Linked DNA regions of Homo sapiens: regions 2 and 3 are each linked to region 1. Evidence: fine-mapped expression QTL. A gene starts in region 1. Each other region holds a variant in brackets. All regions are shown on one strand. Distances are between the middles of the regions. Region 1 holds the start of APOOL (apolipoprotein O like). Region 2 has its middle 24 kb from the start of MIR1321. Region 3 has its middle 63 kb from the start of APOOL.

The links. PIP is the estimated chance that this variant, and not a neighbour inherited with it, causes the effect.
Region 2: its variant is the best candidate, but not a certain one, in a credible set for the expression of APOOL in lymphoblastoid cells (GTEx, PIP 0.77).
Region 3: its variant is the best candidate, but not a certain one, in a credible set for the expression of APOOL in regulatory T cells (Bossini-Castillo 2019, PIP 0.84).

What each region holds. Positions count from the first base shown.
Region 1 is chrX:84,999,127-85,007,314 of GRCh38, forward strand. APOOL (apolipoprotein O like) reads left to right here and starts at 4,751. Exons shown (of 9, transcript NM_198450.6): 1 at 4,751-4,801. The coding sequence starts at 4,787.
Region 2 is chrX:85,808,038-85,816,225 of GRCh38, forward strand. No RefSeq gene overlaps it. Among named protein-coding and RNA genes, the nearest start is that of MIR1321, 24 kb to the right of the region's middle. The variant G/A (reference allele first, on the strand shown) is at 3,052.
Region 3 is chrX:84,936,697-84,944,884 of GRCh38, forward strand. No RefSeq gene overlaps it. Among named protein-coding and RNA genes, the nearest start is that of APOOL, 63 kb to the right of the region's middle. The variant T/C (reference allele first, on the strand shown) is at 3,433.

The DNA.
Region 1 (8,188 bases):
CTGGGGTACTCTTCAGACATGCCCCTACATCAGAACAAATAAATACCAATATCCAAGGGTGGGATCCAGGAATTCTCATTTTATCAAATTATGCAGGTGATTCCCAAATACACTAACTTTTGGAACATCTGGTCTGGCTCAGCTCCTTCAAGATTCTGCCTTTAGAGGCCAAGATTTTATTTTGATGCTAATACTTTCCATTATACAAAGCTGCCTTTTGTGCCCAAAGCAATTAGTGGCAATTGATAAACTTACAATAATAAATCAAGGAATATTTAAGAATAAATAACCTAAAAGAAAATCCAAATTCTTTATATAGATCTGGTTCCTGCCAGACTCTTCTATCACTTTCTGCCTTACTTATGGTGCTCCAGTAAGTTTATTCTCACCTCACGGTCTTTGCATTAGTTGTTCCTTCTGCTTGGAGTGCTCAAACATTAACATGAGTAGACTCACGTTTTACTCAAGACTGCTGAAACATCTGCTCCTTCAAGAGGTATTCCCAATCTAAAGTAACTTTCACCCCAAACCAGAGACTAAATACTATAGTCACTCTCTGTAGTATTTATCAGCATTTAAAATAATCTTAATTTATTTACTGTCTTAGTCAAAATATACTTAAGCTCCCTGGGACCAGGGATTGTGTCTGTGTTGTTCATTGCCTCAAGCCCAGTATATATTTTTTCTGACTTTTTAAATATTTCTGCCACTAATTGGGACATCACATAGACATATTCTGAGAATTACACTTCTTTTTATTCTCATACACAATAGTTCCATGTCCTATAGATCATTCTTACGTAAAGTCAAAGCATTTAGTTGACAAAAACATGCCAGTCATAAGCTTCCATATTTGTGGATAAGGTCATAAAAGCATTGAATGCATTCCATTGATTTATTCTTGATTGTTCATATAGGAAAAGATGAGTGTAAGGAAATTATGAATTTTTTTCTATTTTTGGATTGAAAAAGTTAATATTGTTTTTATTTATTTACTTTTTTAAAAACTTTTATTTTAGGTTCTTGGGTACATGTGCAGGTTTGTTATATAGGTAAAATTGTGTTATAGGGGTTTGTTGTACAGATTATTTCATCACCCAGGTACTAAGCCTAGCACCAAATAGTTATTTTTTCTGACCCTCTCCCTCCTCCCACCCTCTACCCTCAAGTGGGCCCCAATGTCTGTTGTTCCCCTCTTTATGTTCACATGCTCTCATCATTTGGCTCCCGCTTATAAGTGAGAGCATGTGATATTTGGTTTTCTGTTCCTGCATTAGTTTAAAATAAAGGCCTCCAGCTCCATCTATGTTGCTTCAAAGGACATGATATCATTCTTTTTTTGGCTGTGTAGTATTTCATGGCATATATGTACCACATTTTCTTTACCCAGTCTATAGTGATTGGGCATTTACGTTGATTCCATGTCTGTTATTGGGAATAGTGCTGCAATAAACATATGTGTGTATGTGTCTTCATGATAGAACCATTTACATTCTTTTGTGTATTTACTCGGTAATGGGATTGCTCAGTTGAATGGTATTTCTGTTTCTAGCTCTTTGAGGAATTGCCACACTGCTTTCTATAATCGTTGAACTAATTTACACTCCCACCAACAGTGTATTAGTGTTCCCTTTTCTCTGCAACCTCACCAGCATCTGTTATTTTTTTGACTTTTTAATAATAGCCATTCTGACTGGTGTGAGATGGTATCTCATTGTGATTTTGATTTACATTTCTCTAATGATCACTGATATTTAACTTTTTTTCATATGCTTGTTGGCCGCATGTATATCTCCTTTTGAGAAGTGTCTGTTCATGTCCTTTGCCCACTTTTTAATGGGGTTGTTTGATTTTCTTGTAAATTTGTTTAAATTCCTTACAGAAGCTGGATATTATTTTCTCCCATTCTGTAGGCTATCTGTTTATTGATGGTTTCTTTTGCTGTGCAGAAGCTCTTTAGTTTAATTAGATCCCATTTGTCAGTTTTTGCTTTTGTTGCAATGATTTTGGTGTCTTTGTCATGAAATCTTTGCTAGTTCCTGTGTCCAGAATGGCATTGCCTAGGTTGTCTTTCAGGGTTTTTATAGTTTTGAGTTTTACATTTAAGTCTTTAATCTATCTTGAGTTAATTTTTTATTATAGTATAAGGAAGGGGTCCAGTTTCAGTCTTCTGCCTATGGCTCACCAGTTTTCCCAGCACCATTTATTGAATAGGGAGTCCATTATTGGGTATATACCCAAAGGAATATAAGTCATTCTACTATAAAGACACATGCATGGGTCTGCTCATTACAGCACTATTCTCACTAGCAAAGACATTGACTCAACCTAAATGCCCATCAACAGTAGACTGGATAAAGAAAATGTGATACATATATACCATGGAATACTATGCAGCCATCAAAAACATAAAAAAGAATAAGATCATATCCTTGGCAGCACCATGGGTGGAGCTGGAAGCCATTATCCTCAGTGAACTAGTGCAGGAACAGAAAACCAAATACTGCAGGTTCTGACTTATAAGTGGGAACTAAATGGTGAGTATGCATAGACATAAAGATGGAAACAATAGACACTGGGGCCTACTTGACGGTGGAAGGTGGAAGGAATGTGAGGATTGAAAAACTACCTATCAAGTGCTATGCTTATTACCTGGGTGAGGAAATAATCTGTATGTCAAACCCACTTGACATGCAATTTTCCTGTATAACAAACCGGCACATGTACCCAAACCCAAAATAAAAGTTAAAGTTGGAAAAGAAGCAACAACAACAACTACAACAACAAAACATGGGTGTTATTGAAATTCCTGAAATTTTTGGGAAATAAGATTGTTATAAATTTATTCTAAGCTTATTCACAATTTTAAGACTTTTCTTATTTGCCTGTTGATTATTGTGAAATAAACCTGACTGATATTAAAATCAATAAAAAGTGTGCATCAATCAGTTATGAACAAAGTTAGCTTGACAAATCTAGGTATACCATTTATTTAATATGCAGAAATGTTAAATTTGGATGAAATTATTGACAAATACACAGAGGTTAAGGCTCAAAAACAGAAACTGTAATATTATTATTCATTCCTGTGGCAGACCACTATGTAGATATAAGTATTTTTCCTTTGAAAAATACATTAATGCAATTAAAACACCTTGATCCATTTTTTTCCTTTTTTGGTTCTGTACTATTTATTTTGCATTTTATTTTTATATTGGCATATATATGTATGTATATGTTTATATTAAGTTCAATAAAAGAAAATAGTCACTCAATGTTTCTTTTGTAGCCAGTATTATTAGTTTCATTTCATCATTATTTCTTAAAATAATTTTGTCATTTACAGGACAGTTCTGTTAAAAAGGATCTGTTTTGGGTATGAAATGTGATAGGTATCAACTAATGCCTAGTATATAGTTTGCACATAATAAATATTTGTTGATTGAATGAATGAATACATGAATTAATATTGGGACTGTTAATGGGCATATTATGAGCATCTTCTTTCCTCAGAATCCTTCAGGGAGGCCTACAGCAGACCTTGCTCCTGTTGTGAATATTGCAATATACCCTTAGTATATTCTCCTGATAGCACCAAAATCATCCTTTAAAAATGTAAATTAGATCACATCACACCTTTGCTCAAAATCCTCCAATGATTTCCCATCTTATTCAGCATAAAATCCAAATTTATTTTGGCGGCACGAAAGCCCCTACACTGTGTTACTTCGCTACCTCTGAAATTATTGCTCCAGCCTCACTGGACTTTTTCATTGCTGTTCCTTCCGTATGCAACCCTCTTCTCTAAATTCCTCCAGGACTTTTATCAAATGAGCTTATCAGAGTCTTTCTCTCATTGATATAAACCAGTAAACTCCCACCTCATTCCCATACTGTTTTATTTTCCTTCATAGCATTTGTCTCTTTTTTAAAATTTATTATTTATTTTTATTTATTTATTTATTTTTTTGAGACGGAGTCTCGCTCTGTCGCCCAGGCTGAAGTGCAGTGGCGCGATCTCCGCTTACTGCAAGCTCCGCCTCCCGGGTTCACGCCAGTCTCCTGCCTCAGCCTCCCGAGTAGCTGGGACTGCAGGCGCCCGCTACTACGCCCGGCTAATTTTTTTTGTACTTTTAGTAGAGACGGAGTTTCACCGTGTTAGCCAGGATGGTCTCGATCTCCTGACCTCGTGATCCGCCCGTCTCGGCCTCCCAAAGTGCCAGGATTACAGGCGTGAGCCACCGCGCCGGCCTCATTTGTCTCTTTTACTCCTGTAATCATAAGCTCTGTGAGGAAGCCACTATGTTTTGTCTATGCCCCGAACAACTGCCCGGCACAGAGTATGCTCTCCGTGACTTAGTTTTAGAATGAATGAACTTACCCATGTTTCGCAGAGGTAATAAGTTGTTTTTCTTACTATATAATTAATTATTAAAGCAGCTACATTTGGGTATTAAGTCCTTATCTGGACATATCACATATGCCCGAAACAAAATAATTAAAAGTTCTGCACCCAGGAAAATAACTCCCAACTGGACTATTGATAATGTTCTGGAAGGCTTTATCTGGGACCGGGAGGGTCAACCACAGGGGTGAACAGTTTCTCCAGAAGACAGCTGACCGAAACCGCAGCAGTTGCCAAGGCGGCTGGAGGAGGGCGGAGAAAAGGCGGTAACTGGCAGGCAAGGGGCGTAACGGGGTGGGGCTGTCCTAAGGGAAGCCTAGTCGAACTGATTTGTCCCTCTCTGCTCTCCGTCTGAAAACCTTGGCCGAAAGGGTTGTAGACATGGCGGCCATCAGGGTAAGCGAAAACCAACTTGCTTAATTTCTGTGGGTGCCGATAGCATCCCGGTAACTGTAAAAGGGATCCTACTAACTTCTGAAGGAGCCCTGAAACAAGGGGCAGGGTGGAGGTGGGTTTTGAGATAATTGCAATCTTTATCGTTTGAAGCCTCAAGACACCTGCCTTTCCCCATTAGGGTTTTATCAGCCTGGGACGCTGCTCCCTCAATCCCCTGTGGTTGTCGATTTACACAGTGGCACAGTACAAAACTGGGAAACGGCTGGGTGAAAATGGCTGGCCAGGCGACGAGCCGCAGTAGACGTTTCGGTCTTCAGCTGCAATAAAGAGAAAAATATATATATAAACTTGGCATTTGTCTCGGCGCACAGGGCAAGGCCACATGACCCTATGGAAGGACTTTGTTGAAACATTTGGGGTGAAACTGACCAGGATAGAGAGGTCCCATAGTCTTTCAGCAGTGCGCTGGTTTACACATAGTGTTGTTGCTTTCTGTGCTCGAATAACCTGTTCCTTTCGAGTTTTACGCTTGGGAAAGGTGCCTTTACTTGGGAGTCCGTGTACAGTGAGTGACTCAGCTGGCAGCTTGCTGCAGTTCCCTAAGTAGTGTTTAATAATGGTAGTCTACAGATATTTACGTAGCGGGTTTTAATTGTAAAATATTCTGTTAGGCTTGCAGGAGATACAGTATGAATAATTCAGTTCCGCTGAAGTTTTAAGTCGGCAGCGTCTACAGTTCTGGTTCTCATACTTCATCTGAGTTATTTGAACAACCTCCTACCTGAACTTGCCACCTCAAGCCTGGCTCTCATGTAATCTGTTTTCCTCTGTGTTGCCAGAGTACATCTACCAAAATGCAAATTTGATTTTTGCCTCCCCCCGCATTTAAAAAATTTTATGGGCATGTCATCATCTCCCCTCTGGGGTCAGGCCATACTCTTATGTCTAGAACATCTGATTTTACCTAGACTTTCCAGCCTCATCTCTTGTCACTCAGGAACCCTCCTCCTGTCGATACTGAGCTGCTTGCTTGACCCCGCCATGCTTTTTTACGTGCTCTTTCTCTGGGCCTAAAGTGCCTTTTCCCATGCTTATCTAGTTGTATTTATAGTTCATTCATTCATTCAGCAGCTATTTGTGTACAGCCTCCCCATATGCAAAACACAAAAATGCCTTGTTTAATAGTGTCCTTGATCTCCCCAGTCTATTTTATTTTATTTTATTTTTTATTTTTGAGACGGAGTCTCTCTCTGTCTCCCAGGCTTGAGTGCAGTGGCGCGATCTCAGCTCACTGCAACCTCCACCTCCCGGGTTCAGGCGATTCTCCTGCCTCAGTCTCCTGAGTAGCTGGGACTACAGGCGCATGCCAACCATGCCCGGCTAAATTTTTTTATTTTTATTTTTTAGTAGAGACGGGGTTTCACCATGTTGGTCACGCTGGTCTCGAACTCCTGACCTCGTGATTCACCCCCCCCCCCCCCCGGGCCTCCCAAAGTACTGGGATTACAGGCGTGAGCCACCACGCCCGGTCCTCGCCAGTCTATTTTAATAACTCTTGTTTGTGCTCCCAGAGGACTCTGGGCACACTCTTAACCAAGCATTTATTCCACTGCACATATAGACTACTTACTTGTCTGTTCTAGCTACCTAAACTATAAGCTCCTTGAAGACAGTAATTATATTAACCTTTGTATCCGTAGTACCTAGCACAGGTCTGATGTATATTAGGTAGTCAACATGTTCTACATGAATAAAGTGCCAGGCAATGAGGACAGAAGAGATTAAGTGGTGGAGATATAACACATATAACACAAATGACTGTGATTCAGAGTAAGGGGAGTTTCTTACCTGAAGAGAAGTACAAAGTGCTCTGACGCTCAAAAGGAGAGAGCTCACACTTGGTTTGAAGAGAGTAAAAAGAGGCTTCATGGAGAAGGTGCAGAGACAGAAGGAATGGTCAGTGGCAAAAAGCAAACCAGAATAGTGTGTTTTCATTGAGAAGAAGAGAGTTGAACAGTCCTTTGATTTCACCATTAATAAGTTGCTGCTGTTATCATTTATTAAGTGCTTACTCCAGGCCAGGCACTATGCTAAAACACGTTACATGTGTTAATTCACTAATTCTCAAGACAACTTTATGTGGTGGGTATTATTACCATTTTACACATGAAAATTAAGGTTTAGAGAAGTCAGATTATTCAAAACCATGCTAATAAGAGCTGAAGTGAGCTAAAGAGATAAATAGAGTGGTAGAGGAACAACCAAGATTGTATGGGGTTAAGAAAAGAATAAGGGATGGAGAACTGGCATTCATTTAGCACCCACTTTGGCCAGATGATTTACATATATTATTTTAGTTTAATCCTCTTGATGACCCTAAGAAATGGGTAATATATCCATTTTACAGATGGAAAAACGGAGGCTTAGAAAAACTGCTTGCTCCAGGTCATACAACCACTAAGTGGAAGAACTAGGTTCAAACAGTATATTTATCTCCAAAGTCTTTCCACTCCTCCTTGCTTCCTCTGGAAAGGAGTTATACATTACTCTTTAGAGAAGTTTGGTGGTGAAAAGAAGGAACAAAATCTTGGAATGAGGGTAGCAAATTCCAGAAAAGGTGTCTTTTAATTAAAAAAAAAAAAAACTAAAAACAAAACAGGAGACAGAAGACTTGAGCTACTTTGGAGACAAGGGAAAATGTACCAGGAGGTATCTAGAGGGAAAGATAATAGTATTTACAGCTATTGTGTTATTGAATATTGACTACGTGCTAGGAATTTTGCTAAGCACTTTATGTGGATTCTCTCATTTATGTTTCACATTGGCCCTATGAGTAGGAATTTATATTAATCACTTTTTACAGGTAGGGAAACAGAAGCTTAAAAAGGTCAAGTAACTCCAAGGTCACACAGGAGTAAAGTGGTAGAGCTGGATCTGAAATCACATGGTATGAGTCCTGAACCTGGACTCTTAACCATACTTTGTAAGAAAGTGGTAAAATCAAGAGAACAAGTGGAGGGATTAACCTTGCAAAGAGGAGACACACTTTGCTTCAAAGGCCAGAGTTGGTCGAGATAGAAGGTGAAGATACCAAGTGATTTTGAAGAACGGAGGAGGTAGAGGAGGGAGCTCACATTGGAGGTCTGTATCTTCTGGGTGGAAGGTCATCTGCTGAGAGGAAAATATGCCTTTAGGAGTTTAAGAATGGGATAGGCTTGGAAAAGGTGCTTTAGGAAATTCAGTAAAGTATCAGTAGACATTGAATAAAATATTAATAATTGCTGAGAAGTGAGGGCCTGGCTAATGTTGGCTCTAGTAGTGACTTTCTCCAGCAGTGCTCACAGCATAGGAGGGGAAGAGGAGACAGTGGGGTTGCTCCAATGCTGA
Region 2 (8,188 bases), 810 kb after region 1:
ACAGTTCTGTGTGCACTCTCTGTGCCACAGGCAGGGGTGGTTTCTCAGGGTGGGGGAGTGTCTGCTGTTCCCTGTGCCCAGTTTCACTGCCATGGCAGTGTTGATTCAAGGGAGTGGCACTGGAGGGGGCAGGGCTGGCTGGCTCTGTGCCTGCCAAAGCTGTGACTGCAATAATGGTCCAGCCGGGGTAGGGGGAAGTGGAGTGAATCCACCACCGCAGTGGCAAGGGAAGGTGACCACACACATGCATGCTGGTGAGGCAAGGAAGGCAAAACCTGCCTGTGGACACACGCAGCAGCAAAGTGATGTGGGGAATTCCTGTGAGCTCAGAGGAAGCTGTAGTATGGGAAATGAGTGGGCAGGCTGGCATATGGCTGTGGGGGCCACCCTGCTGGAGCTCTTCACTAGTCAAAAACAGTCCACCAGCACAGAAGCTATGATACAGGCCCCGAGGGCACCCAAGGCTTCCCTGCAAGCAGGCCCAGCCAGGCTAGGGCCCAGGGAGAGGCCAGCAGATCAAGGGGTACTCAGGTGGGACCGACCTCACAAGATGGCCCTGAAGAGTTCAGGCGTAACAATTCCCCTAAAGCTAAAGGAGCAAATAGAGCCTAGGGAGATGGGCTTTCCTGGCCTTACACCACTACAGATGCTCCCACACAAAACCCTCTGGGCTCCACCTCAACTGGCATGCTGCCCCTACCACTTCTCTAAGCACCTCTCCCTGCCAACTCAAGTGTTCATGGTGGTTGAGGGGTCTCCTACTGCTGAAATTCCAGAGGCCCATGGCAAGATTGGATTGCTCCTTGCCAGTTCAACTCACCCATTCCCAGGGGTCACTGGGGGCCAGAAACAAGTCCTGGTGTGGGGTAGCCCCATGCAGAGTTCCCAGCTTCCTCCCCCTTCAGACCAGCTGCTATGTCTTCCTTCTATTTATTCTCCATGCCTTCTCTCTGAATATATGTTAGGAGTGTACCAGTCATCTTGGTCTCTTGGTGGCAGCTTTTCCACCTGGCTGTATGTAGTCAGCCATCTCCTATTTCTTTTTTAAAATGACTTATAGCTTTGAATTTTCAATAAGTCTTGGGGCTTCCAACTAATTAGTCTAAACTAGTAGGATATGATTATTCAATAAATCAAGTATCTGTTGAGCAACAACAATGATATTGACTGGATTACAACCCAATTACAAACCCAAACATAATGGCTTCTCCTGGTATTAAAATTCAAGATGTCTAGGCCAGGCATGGTGGCACATGCCTATAATCCTAGCACTATGAGAGACCAAAGCAGGAGAATTGCCTGAGATCAGGAGTCCGAGACCAGCCTGGGAAATATGGTGAAACCCCATCTCTACAAAAATACAAAAATTAGCCAGCCTGTATTTCCACCTACTTGGGGGGCTGAGGCAGGAGGATCATTTGAGTTTGTGAGGTGGAGGCAATGAGCCAAGATCACACCACTGCACTCCAGCCTGGGTCACAAAGTGAGACCCTGTCTCAAAAAAAAAAAAAAAAAAAAAATTCAATGTGTCTAAATAAAAAATGGACATTATTCTGGAACTTTAGTGCACTTAATAATTACCTAAGGTGGTGTAGATTCCTAGCCAACAATCCAGATTCTGCTTCAAGAGGTTTAGGGTAGACCCCAGGAAATTACATTATTAAACAAGCATCCTGAAATAATTCTGATACAGTTTGTCCAAAGACTACAATGAAGAAAGCTTAATATAAGAAAGAAGGCTATTTTCTTTAAAAATGGGCAAACATCCCAGCTATACTTTTACACCAAATATCCAGACAATTATGATTGAAGTTATTTATTTTGGGGTTTGTTACATTCATGTGTGGCCTCATATCATCAGTTTGGAAATGTTGCTGGTAGTCTTTTGTGTTAGCTATAGTTTTGTCTGCTCAACGTGCTCCTCTCCCACCCCATTCCCCCTCTGGTAACCGAAAATTATTGTTGGGCTGACTGCTCTCTGTGACCATAGGAGTAGTAAGATGACTTAGACTTTTCAAATAGGAGTGTCCAATCTTCTTGGACAAAATGTTTAGTCCAGGAATGAGCAAGTGACCTAAGTTTCTCAATGAGGGAAGATTCTAGGACTCTTGTTGGACCTTAATAAATTTCTTCCTATCTTTGCAATTTGAGAGATGTAATGTAAGCCTGTACCTGCTACTACTGTGGGAAGAGATTTTTCCAGAGGATGAAGCACACACAGAGGAAATCAGAATAAAGAAGAGAAAGAGAAAGCCATTCCTTGAGGGTCTGGCATCAATTCTGCTTGAAGCTCTGAACCTTCCAACTCCACAAAACAAGATTTCTGTCTTCTTTAAATAGTCTGAGTTTGTTCATCTTTCATGAAACTGAAATTGTCATAACATAACTTACCTTTGACTAACATTTCTATCTGCTTCACTCACACTACCAGACCTATGCTCCTGGACACACACACACACACGCACACATGCACACACACACACATCCCTTTTAGCAGTTCTGGAAATAGCTTCTATTTAAAAACGCATATTGAATATCCCTTTCTTAGCTCTTAATACAAATTTATAAAAAAATATAATTTTAACAAAAATAAGTTATAACAAGTAATGTCCATATATAATTTATGCAAGATTAAAATTCCACATTTTAATCCAAACCCTACTCTTTTGAACGCTCATTATCTCAACTTTAATAACTGAAAAGTTAGGGAACACATTTGTTTCAGCTCCCCAATGTTCTATACTGTTTCTAGTGTTCCAAACTCTCTAACTTTTCTTAAAGCTCTAGTTGTTTTTGTTTCCAGCAGTCATTTCAGAACCTGAGGATATCCTTCTGAATTCTGGCACATCCTCATCTATTCTGAGTGCCTTAGTTCACACTATGATACTCTGCTTACAATACCTTAACTCTGGAAGAGAAGAAACAAAATTGTAATTTCTTTCTTCTTGTATTGCTTCCTTATTAAAAAGGCATGACTCCTCCCTAATCCCAGAACCTGGGAAGGCTTCTCCCATTCATCCATTAAAAAACCCTCTTAGTGGTAACAAACAC[G/A]CTGATTACAGAACGAGTGTCCCTTCTTCACCAATCCTAGCTCTTTGCAGTTATACATTTACACACCCATGTGCTTCATTTCATTTCTCTTACTCTCCCTCCATTCTTATAGACACAAAGTTTTAGAAATAAGATGATTTGTCTGTGGGATTCGCTATTTTGCATGTTTACAATAATAGAAAAATAAATGTGATTCAATAGCATTCATTCTCATGTGAATTTCAGTTCATCATACTTCAAATTAATGAGAGCCATCTATGACAAACCCACAACAATCATCATACTGAATAGGCAAAAGCTGGAGGAATTCCTCTTGAAAACTAGCAAAAGACAAGATTGCCCTCTCTCACCAGTCCTATTCAACATAGTACTGGAAGCCCTAGCCAGAGAAATCAGGCAAGAGAAAGAAATAAAACACATCCAAATTGGAATACAGGAAGTCAAAATATCTCTGCAGATTATATGATTATATACTTAGAAAACCCCATAATATCTTCCCAAAAGCTCCTTGATCTAATAAACAAGTTTAGCAAAGTTTCAGGATAGAAAGTTAATGTACAGAAATCAGTAGCACGTCTATATAGCAACAATATCCAAGCTGGGAAAGCCAAATCAAGAACACAATTCCATTCACAAAAGACATAAAAAGGATAAAATACCTAGGAATACAGTTAAACAGGAAAATGAAAAATCTCTATAATGAGAATTAGAAAACACTGCTACAAGAAATCAGAGTTGACACAAATGGAAAACCATTCCCTGCTCATTGGTAAAAGAATCAATATTCTTAAAATGGCCATACTGCCAAAAGCAATCTACAGATTCAATGCTACTTGTATCAAACTACTGATAAAAGACTTAAGAAAAAATTACTTAGGCAGATAGATAGTGAGGGCACAAATGTCCTCAGTAATGTTTTCCTTTTAATGTAAAGCAGCCCCAAATCATTTTCTTTTCTAACAAAGAGCAGCCTGTAAAATCGAGCTGTAGCCATAGATGCCAGCAGCTGTGCTAATCATGTTCAAAATGGTGGCCCCAGCTTCCCTTCTCTTTATCAGCCACGTGTACAGTAAGGAGCAGAATAGATAGCAGTGGTCAATGGGAGAGTTCATTTGCATAATAAGAGTAGGGTGGGGCAGCCAGCCTTCCCCATGCACTATGTAAATGTCATAACTGATCAAACCAATCTGTGAGTCCTATGTAAATCAGACACTACCTCCTCAAACCTAACTATAAGATCCAGCACATCCACTGCCCACTGGTCCTTTCTGCTTGGAGACCTCTCTCTATAGAGAGAGCTGCTTCTCTTTCTCTTCTCTTATGCCTATTAAACCTCTGCTCCTAAACTCCTAATGTGTCTCTGTGTCCTAAATTTTCCTGGTGTGAGACAACAAACCCAGGGTATATACCCCAGACAACATATCCACTTCATACTGGGGGCTCGTCCAGGATATCAAGGTACAACATTCATCGTAACAGTGAGTAGAGGAGTAGACTTCAACTCTGTCTTTTCATTTTGAGATTCTTGGCCTCCATTTTAGAACCAAATCAAACCAAATACTAGTCCCCTTTCAGTCATTTAAAAATGATTAGTGTGGCTGCCAGCCTTACAAGATTTGGGGGACAGGCTTAATGGGGAGAACATGGAGAATTCCCCAGCACCCATGGGTTGCTGGGCATCTTGGCCATGTTTGAACCAGCTTCCTTTCATAGAGGAATTAGCTGTCATGTGGAGCTGGAAGAAGTCCTGAGGTAACTGAGGATTTCTGGCTGAGGCTATCCCCAGTGTTATCCAAAGGCTTCTGGACTGACCCCTGCCTCCAACTGCCTGATGGGATTTTGGCAATAGGATCTCCAACTTTCCTATTGTAATTACCTCCTTTCCTGTTTGCAACTGCCATATCTCTTATCCTCTCTGTGTATGCAATGTGCAGGAAGTTTTAGAGTTCAGGGAAGTAATCTTGTTTGGCAAGATCAGGGAATGTCATAGTAACTGGGGATATAGCTCAAGGGAGGGCACCTTTGTGATTTTCTAGGAACAGAGGGTCCCCACCCACCACAGTGAGCATCACTCTCTGCCCTTGGTCTGGAGAGCACATGGCATTTCAAGGTCAACAGACCCACCTAGTGGAATAGAGATCCTCTCCATGAGGCACATTTTTGGTCCTTTCCTGAAACACTCTAGCTTCCCAATTCTCCCTTTTTTTTTGCCCCTTTACCAGAGACCAGGTTTTATGCTGCTTCTGTGAACAGGAAAACTTTACCTTCAACAATTGGGAGTAAAATGTTCTCTGGAACCAAATTTTACTCTTGATACTGTCCCATCAGCAGGAAAATGGCCATTCAGCCCCTACATTTTTAAAGCATCTATTCTGCCTCCAATTTAAATGGTAATTAATAAATAAGGGCATTTAAAGTTCAGAAGTTAACCAGGACCATTCTCTAAGGGCAAATGCTTTAGCATGGGCCATAAAAGCAGGATATAGAGCTGAAACCAGCACACTTCCTCCAGTAAGGAGGGAAATGCAACTGTCACATAGTCTCTCCTGAGATCCATTTTTCAGGGAGTCAGGCAGGTCACACAAGTCTAAGAAGTCAAACAGAGATCACAGACAGATGACCAGAGCCACATGGGTGAGCATGACTAATCTTAATCACTTAGTTCCTTTGGTTCCATGGCTGGAGTTCATGCCTGCAGCCATGGGCAGCACATTTAACAAGGTGCCAGTACCCAGGAACCGTGGAGGGGAAACAGCAGGGAGGATGCCCCTGCTCTCTTCCTCAACACCCTGGGTCACACCAAAAGGAAGGAGACTAAAAGGACTCCTTTTTCTCACATCTCTTTCAAGATGGGTAACAGACCATCTTCAGCTTGCACTCCTGGAGTGCATTCTGAAGCACAGGAGCTCCTTTGACCCTGAGATTTTGAAGAAAAAGTGGCTCATTTTCTTTTGCACAAGGGCAAGGCCTTCTTACTAGACCTTTGTAAGCATTGCACAATCAACCCAGCTCTTTTAGCAGCCATATCAGGCAGACCTATAAAGAATGATTCACCCAAATTAGAGAAACAACTTCCAGGGGCACCATCTGAGGATCCCCCTTATTTGGGGCCCCATTGAGTTCCCTTCTCATTAAAGGACCTTGTTCAAATAAAGGGAGATTTAGGCCAATTTTCTAATGATGCTGATAAGTATATAGAAGCTTTCCAAAATTTAACTCAGGTTTTTGATCTCTCATGAAGGGACGTTAGGATGCTCCTAAGCCAAACCCTAACTGCAGCTGAAAAACCGGCAGCTCTGCAATCAGGAGAGAATTTTGGAGATGAGCAATATCTCTCCTATAGTAGGCCAAAAGGGAAAAGAAAAAATAGGGAAGGCAAAGAAATAGGAGAAACACATTCCCAATAGGAAGAGAGGCAGTCTTGATGACCCTAATTGAAACCCCCAGACTTTTCTATGGTATTTTTCCTTCTTTCATGGTTTAAAATGGCTTTATCTCCTTTCATAATGCTCTTCCAACCTTGGAAAAGTTAAATTTGCAAACCTTAAAATGCTTGGCTTAGAGTTGAGCTATGGGGAAGGGAACCCAGAAGCCTGACATGCTGGCAAAAGGGTAAAAATTTCTTACCAGTTGGCCTTTTTGTTTCTCTCTCCCTGTGAAAACTGGTAAAAGAAATAATAAGGATCATTGTTTATATTCTTAAGTTTTAATTGATGAAAAAGTATTTGCAAGGTTGTTCTTAAGCTGTAGCCAATCTGGTGTACTTTGTGTGTCTTTCTGTATGGTTCTGTCAAAAGAAAGGATACCTTAGGTTAGGATACAGGCGTAGGACTCCATAAACCTGCTGTTCAAGCCAGCCCAACAAAATAGTCAATAACAAACACGTCAACAGGTCTCCATCTTGTTACATGTTCTTGGCAAAATGACCTGTAACCACGTGGCAATACTTTATTTTAGTCTCTGCCATTTTACAATGGTGGCTGTCTTCTTGTGCTAAGTCAGTTCCTTGGGTGAGGACCATAAAATCAGATAAGCCAGTTTATCAATAGGGGAGGGGCCAGCTAATCCATCAAAGGCAGGGTTTACAAAATACCTTAAGCACTGATCTTGAGAGTAGTTAAGGGAGAGTCAAAATCTTGCAGCCTCCACCTACGTTATTCCTAAGCCACGGTTTCTAATCTTGTGGAGAGTTTCTTGGTCTGTTCCCCAGGCAAAAGGGAAGCTGTCTTAGGAAGGCGTTGTTATCACCTTTGTTTTGGACTATAAACTGTAAACCAGGCTCCTCCCAATGTTGGTTTGGCCTATGTCCAGGGATGGGCAAGCTTGGGGGCTGAAAACAAAATGGAATTGGTTGGGTCGAATCTCTTTCACTTTCTCAGTCACAATTTTGCAATAATGGTTTCAAAAGCTGCTTATCACCCCTTTGAAAATACCTCATACATTCGTGGTTAAGTCATAACCTAATTATGGCTTGTTGGTTTCACCGGTTAGGTTACCTTTTGTGAAGCTCAAAAGCCAAAAATCTTAACTCTCAGCATGGCTAAAGTAGAGTAACAAGGGATTTAAAAGGATTTTCTTAAAGAGTGCTCAGCTTAATTAAAAGTGTATATTCAAGTTGTAGGTATATTTAAAAGGCCTTTATGTTTTTCTCTTCTTGGATCTTGCTTTTCTGGAAAAAGTGTTTTTTTTTAAATTTTCAGTCAATTGAATTATTTTTCTCCATTTTTTGTCTTGCCACTCATAATGCACACAAGAGAGGTCCTAAGATAACTTCTGGTAGCCTGGGACTCCTTGGGAAACAAAACCCTATTTTCCTCATGAAACCCCAGGAATTAGAAGCAGATAATTCATTCTCAAATTTAAAGGCTCTGTTCTGTTTTGCATTGTGTTATCTAACAGTTTTGATAACTAGGTAGGAAATATACCTTAAGCGATGGCTAATAGTAGTTATGGAGGAATACTTAACTCTTTGCACATTTAAATCAGAGAAGCATGCTCTTGGTCACCAGAAGATATGGAAACATCCCTACCCCACACTAAGAGATGAGACTCCCACAGGGGATGGGCTGATTACAAAATAAGCCAAACTGGCTTTGGGTTGCCTTCCAATGAAATGCATGGTAGAAGCACTGCACTG
Region 3 (8,188 bases), 62 kb before region 1:
TAATACGTTTTGTAATTTAATCAATTATCTAATCTTAGTAGGCTAAAAAAGTTTTAATTTTCTGAAGGTAAGTTTAATCCTTAACACTTCAAATAAAAGAGAACAAAAACTACTCAGCAGGAAAAATATATGCTTAGTGTTTTACTTTCATGCACGTTTAAAATAATTTATTTGGATGCTAACAATGTTATTGACATTACATTTTCAATACATGCCAAATTTTCTCTTACCTGGAGCACAGAAGAAAAAGAGACATAGAGAAACTTCTTCAGGCCTGGCACAGTTGCTCATGCCTCTAATCCCAGCACATTGGGAGGCCAAGGAGGGCAGATTGCTTGAGTTTAGGAGTTCGAGACCAGTTTTGGCAATATGGCAAAACCCCATCTCAACAAAAACAAAATTAAAAAAAAAAAAAAGCCAGACATAATGGTGCACACCTGTAGTCTCAGCTACTTAGGAGACTGAGGTGGGAGGATCCCTTGAGCCCGGGGAGGGGGGCTGGGTGTTGAGGCTGTGGCGAGCTGTGACTGAGCCACTGCAATTCGGCCTGGGTGTCAGAGTAAGACCGTGTCTCAAAAAAAAAAAAAAAGTCTTTGCATTTAAATATGTTAATTTGTAAATTACACTAAATCTCACTTGAGAAGACTTTATAAACTCTTTTTTGAAGTGTAAAAGTTAACTTTAGTATATTACCTATGATCTACTCTTGTTAAAGGGGAGATGGAGGGATGAAGGCAATACTGTCTAATAAAACTTTCTGCAATGGCGGAAACATCCTATATCTACACAATCCAAATACAGTAGCCGCTAGCCATGCGTGGCTATTGAACATCTGAAACAGAAAGAGAGGGAGAATTTTGTTTTTACCTAGTTTTTAGTAAAAGCTTTATTGCATGGTTTGCAAACCACTTTTTAACCTTTGTATTTTAGATTTTACATGCCTCCAAGAGATCTTTACAAAATGTTTACATTATGATATGTAACTATAAAAAAAAGAATAAAATTTCTGTCCATGTCACTAGAGATCATTGATTTAGTAGAGAGCTATGCTATGAATATGTTTGATATTTGTAGATTGTTGAAACATTACCACTTAAGAAATTTCTAATCAAGAAATTCAATATTATAGTCTGTTCCTAAGAAGCAAATAGAAACTTTTATGGTAGAGATTATGTATGTAGGTCATCAATAGTGATAGCTGGAATTTTCAGAATATTAATACAGTGATCTCACACTATTATGAGCTTTTCCTATTATGGTCCAATTCACAGTTACTAATTATATTGCCTTTATTATTTTGCTTCAAATATATTTTCACCATCAAAATCAAACCCACATAATAGTAAATATTTGGGGATAAACAATAAAATCTAAGCAGGACATTATGAGACAGTCAAAATGGCCATAGTAGGATGGCAATTCTATTTCTGATTAGAATATTTAAGGTTCTTTTTTATTCAAAATGGTTACTCCCATCTTGCTCTGTTAGTCCCTACCTACCAGTTCCTCGATTTCAGTGAAATCAATTATGAAATGTTAAAATTTGTATTTGGATTAGGGAGGGAAAGATGATTGTATTCTATTGTCAGTATTTTCAGAAGCAGAATAACTGAGCTGATTTGGGGAAAAGGTTCTATCCTAGGTATCAAAAAACATAGCTTTTGCCTCGTAAAACTGCTAACACATACCCTACACGTAAAATTGAGTACTTTCAGCTTACTAAATGTTTGGCATGATTTTTAATATCGTGTTTTATGTGTATTGGGGTAAGATATTATGACTTTGTCTTGCCTCTATAGATACCATCAGGGCAAGTCTAATTCAGCTTGAAAGTTAGGCCATGAACAAGGATAATCTGGCATATATTATTAGCATTTATAAAAATATTTAGCTAAAAATATTTAGCTTTCTCATGTTAGGTATATGAAAAGCATAGCAAATATCCAACCATCCATGGTACAGCTTTCTTTCATCTCATGATGAGAAAAAAGATTCTTATATAATTTATACTGGCCTCAAATCATGATCTTCACTTGTTTTGGGTTTATACTGTCAACAAAAAGAGTCAAACTCTGTAGAATATTTGAAGAGATTTGTTCTGAGCCAAATATGAGTGACCATGGCCCGTGACACAGCCCTTAGGAAGCTGGTCCTGAGAACATGTGTCCCAGGTGGTCAAGGTGCAGCTTGGTTTCATACATTTTTATAGAGCCATGAGATATCAATCAAATACATTTAAGAAACACATTGGTTTGGTTCAGAAAGGTGGGACAATTCAAAGTGGGGGCTTCCAGGCAATAGGTAAATTTAAACATTTTCTGGTTGACAATTTGTCCAGTTTGTCTAAAGACCTGGGATCAATAGAAAGGAAATGTTCCTGATAAAATAAAACATTGTGGAGACCAAGGTTCTTTTAAAATTTTACAGTGGCTGCCCTTAGAGACAATAGATGACAAATGTTTCCTATTCCAATTTTTAATGGTGGTAGACTCTTGCTTAATCTCTTTAGGATTGGAAGGGCCTGGAAGAAAAAGATCTAGCTATGTTAATAGAGATTGTTTACAGATGCAGATTTTCCACCGCAAAGGACAGCTTTGCAGGGCCATTTCAAGATATGGCAAAGAAACATGTTTTGAGGTAAAATATTTTGACTTTCTTATTTGTCACATAATGTTATGCCAGAGTCAGACTGGAAAGTAAGTCACAACATATAGGGTTAAATAAAACCCATCTGATGAGAATTTGTGGTTTTCAGGGCATGACTCTCCAGACCCCTCAGATAGGAATTTGGGCATGATAAAAAAAAAAAAAAAATCAGAGCTTAGTCCTCAGTGCCCCCCCTTGGACAAATGTTCAGGCCAACAAACAGCAGCAGGTCCCACAGTGCTAGGAAGGCTCATTCCTAGAGTTGTCTGGTTTGGCCATCTGGCAAGGTTTCCTGGCACTAGGAAGGCTCGTTCCTAGAGCTCTCTGATTTGATGGTAATACTTTTAAATATTAAGCTGGGTGTGGTGGCTTACACCTGTAATCCCAGTACTTTGGGAGGCCAAGGCATGTGGATCACAAGTTCAGGAGTTCAAGACCAGCCTGGCCAAGACAGTGAAACCCCGTCTCTAAAAAAAAAAAAAAAAAAAAAAAAGACAAAAAAATTAGCAGAGCGTGGTGGCATGCACCGGTAATCCCAGCTACTCGGGAGGCTGAGGCAGGAGAATCACTTGAACCTGGGAGGCGGAGGTTGCAGTGAGCCGAGATCGTGCCACTGCACTCCAGCCTGGGCAACAGATTGAGACTCTGTATGAAAAAATAGATAAGTAAATAAATAAATAAATAAATATTAGCTATTTGGATCACGGGGGAGGACATGGTCTGAACCAATATAATAGCCATTTGTTTAAGGGGTGAGATGGAGTCAGGCCTAGGGTTTAGTAAAAA[T/C]AAACAAAAAAAATTCCCGGGCCAGATGTATTTTGCGAGCTATCATGATCCGGGTCCTTAATTGTACCTTTTCCTTTTGCTGTATCTGGCATAACATTTACAAGAGTTGTATAATGCTAATATAGTAAGAAATATAATAAAGATAGTGAAGATTGAGTGTCCAAGGTTATAGGTAGAATCAGAGGGCAGTAAACAACCCAATCTGCCAGAAAATCCCCTGTATGCATTATTATATTCTTGGATCAAACTCACAATGTGTTCAACCCCCTTGTTAAGGGTTATTTGAACTTTATGATAAATCTTATTTGAGGATAGTAGGAGTGACATTAAATCAGAATCCAATAAATTTAGTGTCTCTTCTAGCCAATTTATCTCTATAGGTATAACAACCTGAGGAGGGTATTAATCAATTGCAAGAAACACCCGGTCCTCAGTGTCTAAATTGTTATAGACTTGCTAACAGTAGAAAAATCTATTTTTCCCACCACTTTTGTATTGCACCATATACTGGTATTTGGGAGAGAAAAGAAGGCTTTGTCACAGGAGAAGTCATTCTACAGTGTCATTTCTTTTTGTCCCTCGGCAGGACTCCCTATGGCTGAGAGCCTTAAGAGTCAAAAGACTTATAGCCAATTAATTGTTCTAGGCCAGCTAGGAATGGATGTGGACAGGCATTTGTTACTTCTTAAAATTATTATTTTAAGTAAAAAAGCCAACAACAAAACCAAAAGGCAAAGTTACAAGACACTTATTTTTAACTTCTATGTGTTGAACTACTATAAGCTTGGTTTTTGTTACAGACTTTTAGCAATTAGCTATATAAAACATTAGCATTGTTCTGAAAAATAATTAAACATATCTATATCTATAGCTATATAGATATAGATATATTTATCTTCACAACTCATAATTGGGAGTGTTATACCCAGGAGGCTTTGTTACAAGGTATTTTTATCCGGTTATTTTACTAGTTAGTAAATATTTCCTTCTAATTCTATAGTAAGCAGAAAATTTTTATGGTCGTGGTGGATGCAAAAGTGACACATGATAGTTTAGAAGGCAATTAAACTTGTTTTACCAGATATTTAGGCATTTTTGTACCCCCTTTTAGATTTGGAGGGTTTGACCTTGACTTAGTCCCTCAAAACTGACCCTTACAATATTATGCACCCATCTCTTCCACGATAGTCCCTGGGCCTACAGCGAGGCAGCTTGTAAGGTTTTAGTAGCAGAGCATTAGCAGTGAAACAGATCTGGGCCCAGGGGGATGCCAAATGAGGGAGATTCATATCTCTGGTCTTTAGAATACCATGGCTTTGGTTTCCTTGGAAGTAAAACAAGGAGAGATAGATAACATTTATAGTTTGACAATTATAAGAGTCATTGAGGCCTGGCACCTGTAATCCCAGCACTTTGGGAGGCCGAGGCGGGTGGATCCCCTGAGGTCAGGAGTTCTGGACCAGCCTGGCCAACATGGTGAAGCCCCGTCTCTACTAAAAATACAAAAATTAGCCGGAAGTGGTGGCAGGCGCCTGTAATCCCAGTTACTCAGGGGGGCCGAGGCAGGAGAATTGCTTGAACCTGGAAGGTGGAGGTTGCAGTGAGCCGAGATCCTACCATCACACTCCAGCCTGGAGGACAAGAGCGAGGCTTCATCTCAAAAAAAAAAAAAAAAAAGAATAATTGCTATGTGAGAACAGAAAAGGAAACCTATTCAATTAGGGCACCAAATAAAAATATGAAGAAAAATTATAACGATTTAATCTGTACTCGAAAAAGTTAGGGCTGAAATCCAGTATTAAGTGTTACGTTTTTCCCTTGAAAGTATTTTTTTAGCTGCCTTTATTTAGTAAAGATAAAATTATAGCAAGGCCAATTTGTGTGCAAGGTAAGTTTTAGGCTTATTATGCTTGCCTGATTATTTGCATAAAATACATTGAGAATTGATTGACCATATAGACTCGTTTTAAGTTGGCTTTGCTGGAACTTTGCTTAAAAAGAGGCTATTTTAGTTTAAGTCTTGGTAAAATAACCAGTGTCTCCAATTGTTTTTTTTAGATAGAGTCTCGCACTGTCGCCCAGGCTGGAGTGCAGTGGTGCCATATCGGCTGACTGCAACCTCCATCTCCCGGGTTCAAGAGATTCTCCTGCCTCAGCCTCCTGAATAGCTGGGATTACAGGCGCATGCCACCACGCCCTGCTAATTTTTTGTATTTTTAGTAGAGACAGGGTTTCACTGTGTTAGCCAGGATGGTCTCGATCTCCTGACCTCGTGATCTGCCCGCCTCGGCCTCCCAAAGTGCTGGGATTACAGGCGTGAGCCACGTGCTCAGCCTGTGTTTGTGGTTTTTTTTGTTTTTTGCTTGTTTGTTTTTACTATTATTGAACTAATGCAGACAACTATAATGTCATAAAATTTCAATCTAAATTTTGGAGAGCTCAGAAAGGTAAATTTTCTTACAAAGACATACTGTACCCAAATAACTTAAAAGAAAAAGATTCTCTTGAGCTTTCTTTAACCAGAGTAGCAGCTTTTAAAACAAGATGTTTGTATACCTTTGAAATGCCATTTACAAACCAAACAGCTCCTGAGAGCTATTAGGCACTGTAGAATTTAGCAGCTCCTCACAATTAGTCCTAGGAAAGAGGCTCTCTGCTTATTAGGTAGCAAGATTTTATATAAACCATTTTTATTCTATCATGGCACTCTTTTGGGAAACATTATTTTCATTAGCATAGGGATAGCTTCAGTTAATATTTCATAGCAAGGCAGTAAATGCCCCATTAAGTAGAAATTCTCCAGTTCAGTCATTGTCATTGAAAGGTACTCACAGTTTTTGCCAACAGCCCTGATAAAAGCTCCACATAAAGGGCTATGCAGTGGAGGATTTGTCCCAACTAGCACTCCAGCTCTTACCCTATATTCTGTGCACTTAGGCACCTTACTAGTTTCCATTTAGCATGTGCAATTAAACATTTCTTAAAAGAACAGATTTATATGCCTTTAGTTTACACTGCTAGATGGGGAAACATCTAACCGTGTAAGTTTGATATAGTATCCATTTTTATAAGACTTTCAGTAAAGGGGTTACAACTACCTTATATAAAGCTTGTTTAAACATTTTAATTTTATAATTCTATGAGCCTGTATGTTTTTATGTTCCGGTCTCAGTAACCCTTTTTTTACCCCCAGACCATTTTACATTTTCTGGTGAAAAGGATTTCGGTTCCCACAGGGAGTTGCATTTGTAAGACTGATGAGGGACAGCATATTTGATAAGGCTTCTTAAACAGTCCTATTATTCTGTGGGAGGAGCTCCCATGTAAAATGGGCTCCCTTAACCCCAAAATTTACCATGACCTGGGTAATAGGCACATTTGGTGGGAAGATATCCCACTTATCATAAAGTTAGTCCAACATGGCTTGCATATGAAGCATATCAACTGCTTAATCTGGGGTGCTTCACTTAGTATTTTATAGGGAGAGTTGGGCAGTCCCCTTCTCAAGGCAAACAGACCTTACAATGGCATTATCTGGCCCACTAGGCTGATCACTTTCTTAGGAATAAACCCCTGTTAATTTGGAACAAATATACTCAGTGATGGTTAAGTGATGAGCTGTGGGTCCTGCATTAATCTAAACAAGGTCTTATATTCTGTAGCATTTAAAATTAAGAATTTTGTTCTTAAAGTGGTTATTTTTACAATCCACTATAGTAAAGATTTTTTTTAAAGAAGCTGGATGATACCAATCTACAAGATGGAACAATTCCTTTACATTACATACTTGGGTTTTAAATAGTTACTTTGTTTTACCCTTTCCCCATATGGACTATTGTCTTGGTAACCACAGGGCTCAGAGTTTTGTTGCCCTGGCTTTTTTTTTTTTTATTTATTTTGTTTTATCTGTATAATTTCCTTCATTATAAAGCAACTCTTAGTTTTTTTGTTTTTTTTTTTTTTGAGACGAAGTCTCGCTCTGTTGCCCAGGCTGGAGTGCAATGGTATGATCTCAGCTCACTGCAACCTCCACCTGGTTCAAGCAATTCCCCTGCCTCAGCCTCCCAAGTAGCTGGGATTACAGGCGCATGCCACCACGTCCAGCTAACTTTTTTGTATTTTTAGTGGAGATGGGGTTTCACCATGCTGGCCAAACTGGTCTTGACCTCCTGACCTCAGGCAATCCGCCCAACTCGGCCTCCCAAAGTACTGGGATTACAGGTGTGAGCCACCATGCCCGGCCTAACTCTTAGTTTCTTAACTGAAACAAAACTAACTTTTTTTGAAAATTGACATCCTTGTATTTATAAAATTTTTACCAAAGGCATATTTTATGCTTCTACTATTTTAACTTTTTAGTAACCCAAATTTCCAGTGGGAAAAAATCCTGAGGGTTTAATATGACTCAAAGACTTTTAAATTACAGGAGAGTTTTAGGATTAAATTTACCAAATTAATTTTACCAAAGATTACCAAGGTTATGTGAATTAAAAGGCACCTGAGCTAACTTCTACCAATATGATAAGCACTTACTTTTTTAAAAGTTACTTGATTGTAAGGGAGGAGACCACCCCTCATATTGTCTTATGCCCAATTTCTGCCTCCAAAGAAAGAAGAAGTAAAAACTAAAAGGTAGAAATGAAATCCACAGGCAGACAGCCCGGCACCGCACCCTGGGCCTGGTTAAAGATCCACCCCTGACTTAATCGGTTATGTTATCTATAGATTACAGACATTATATAGAAAGGCACTGTGA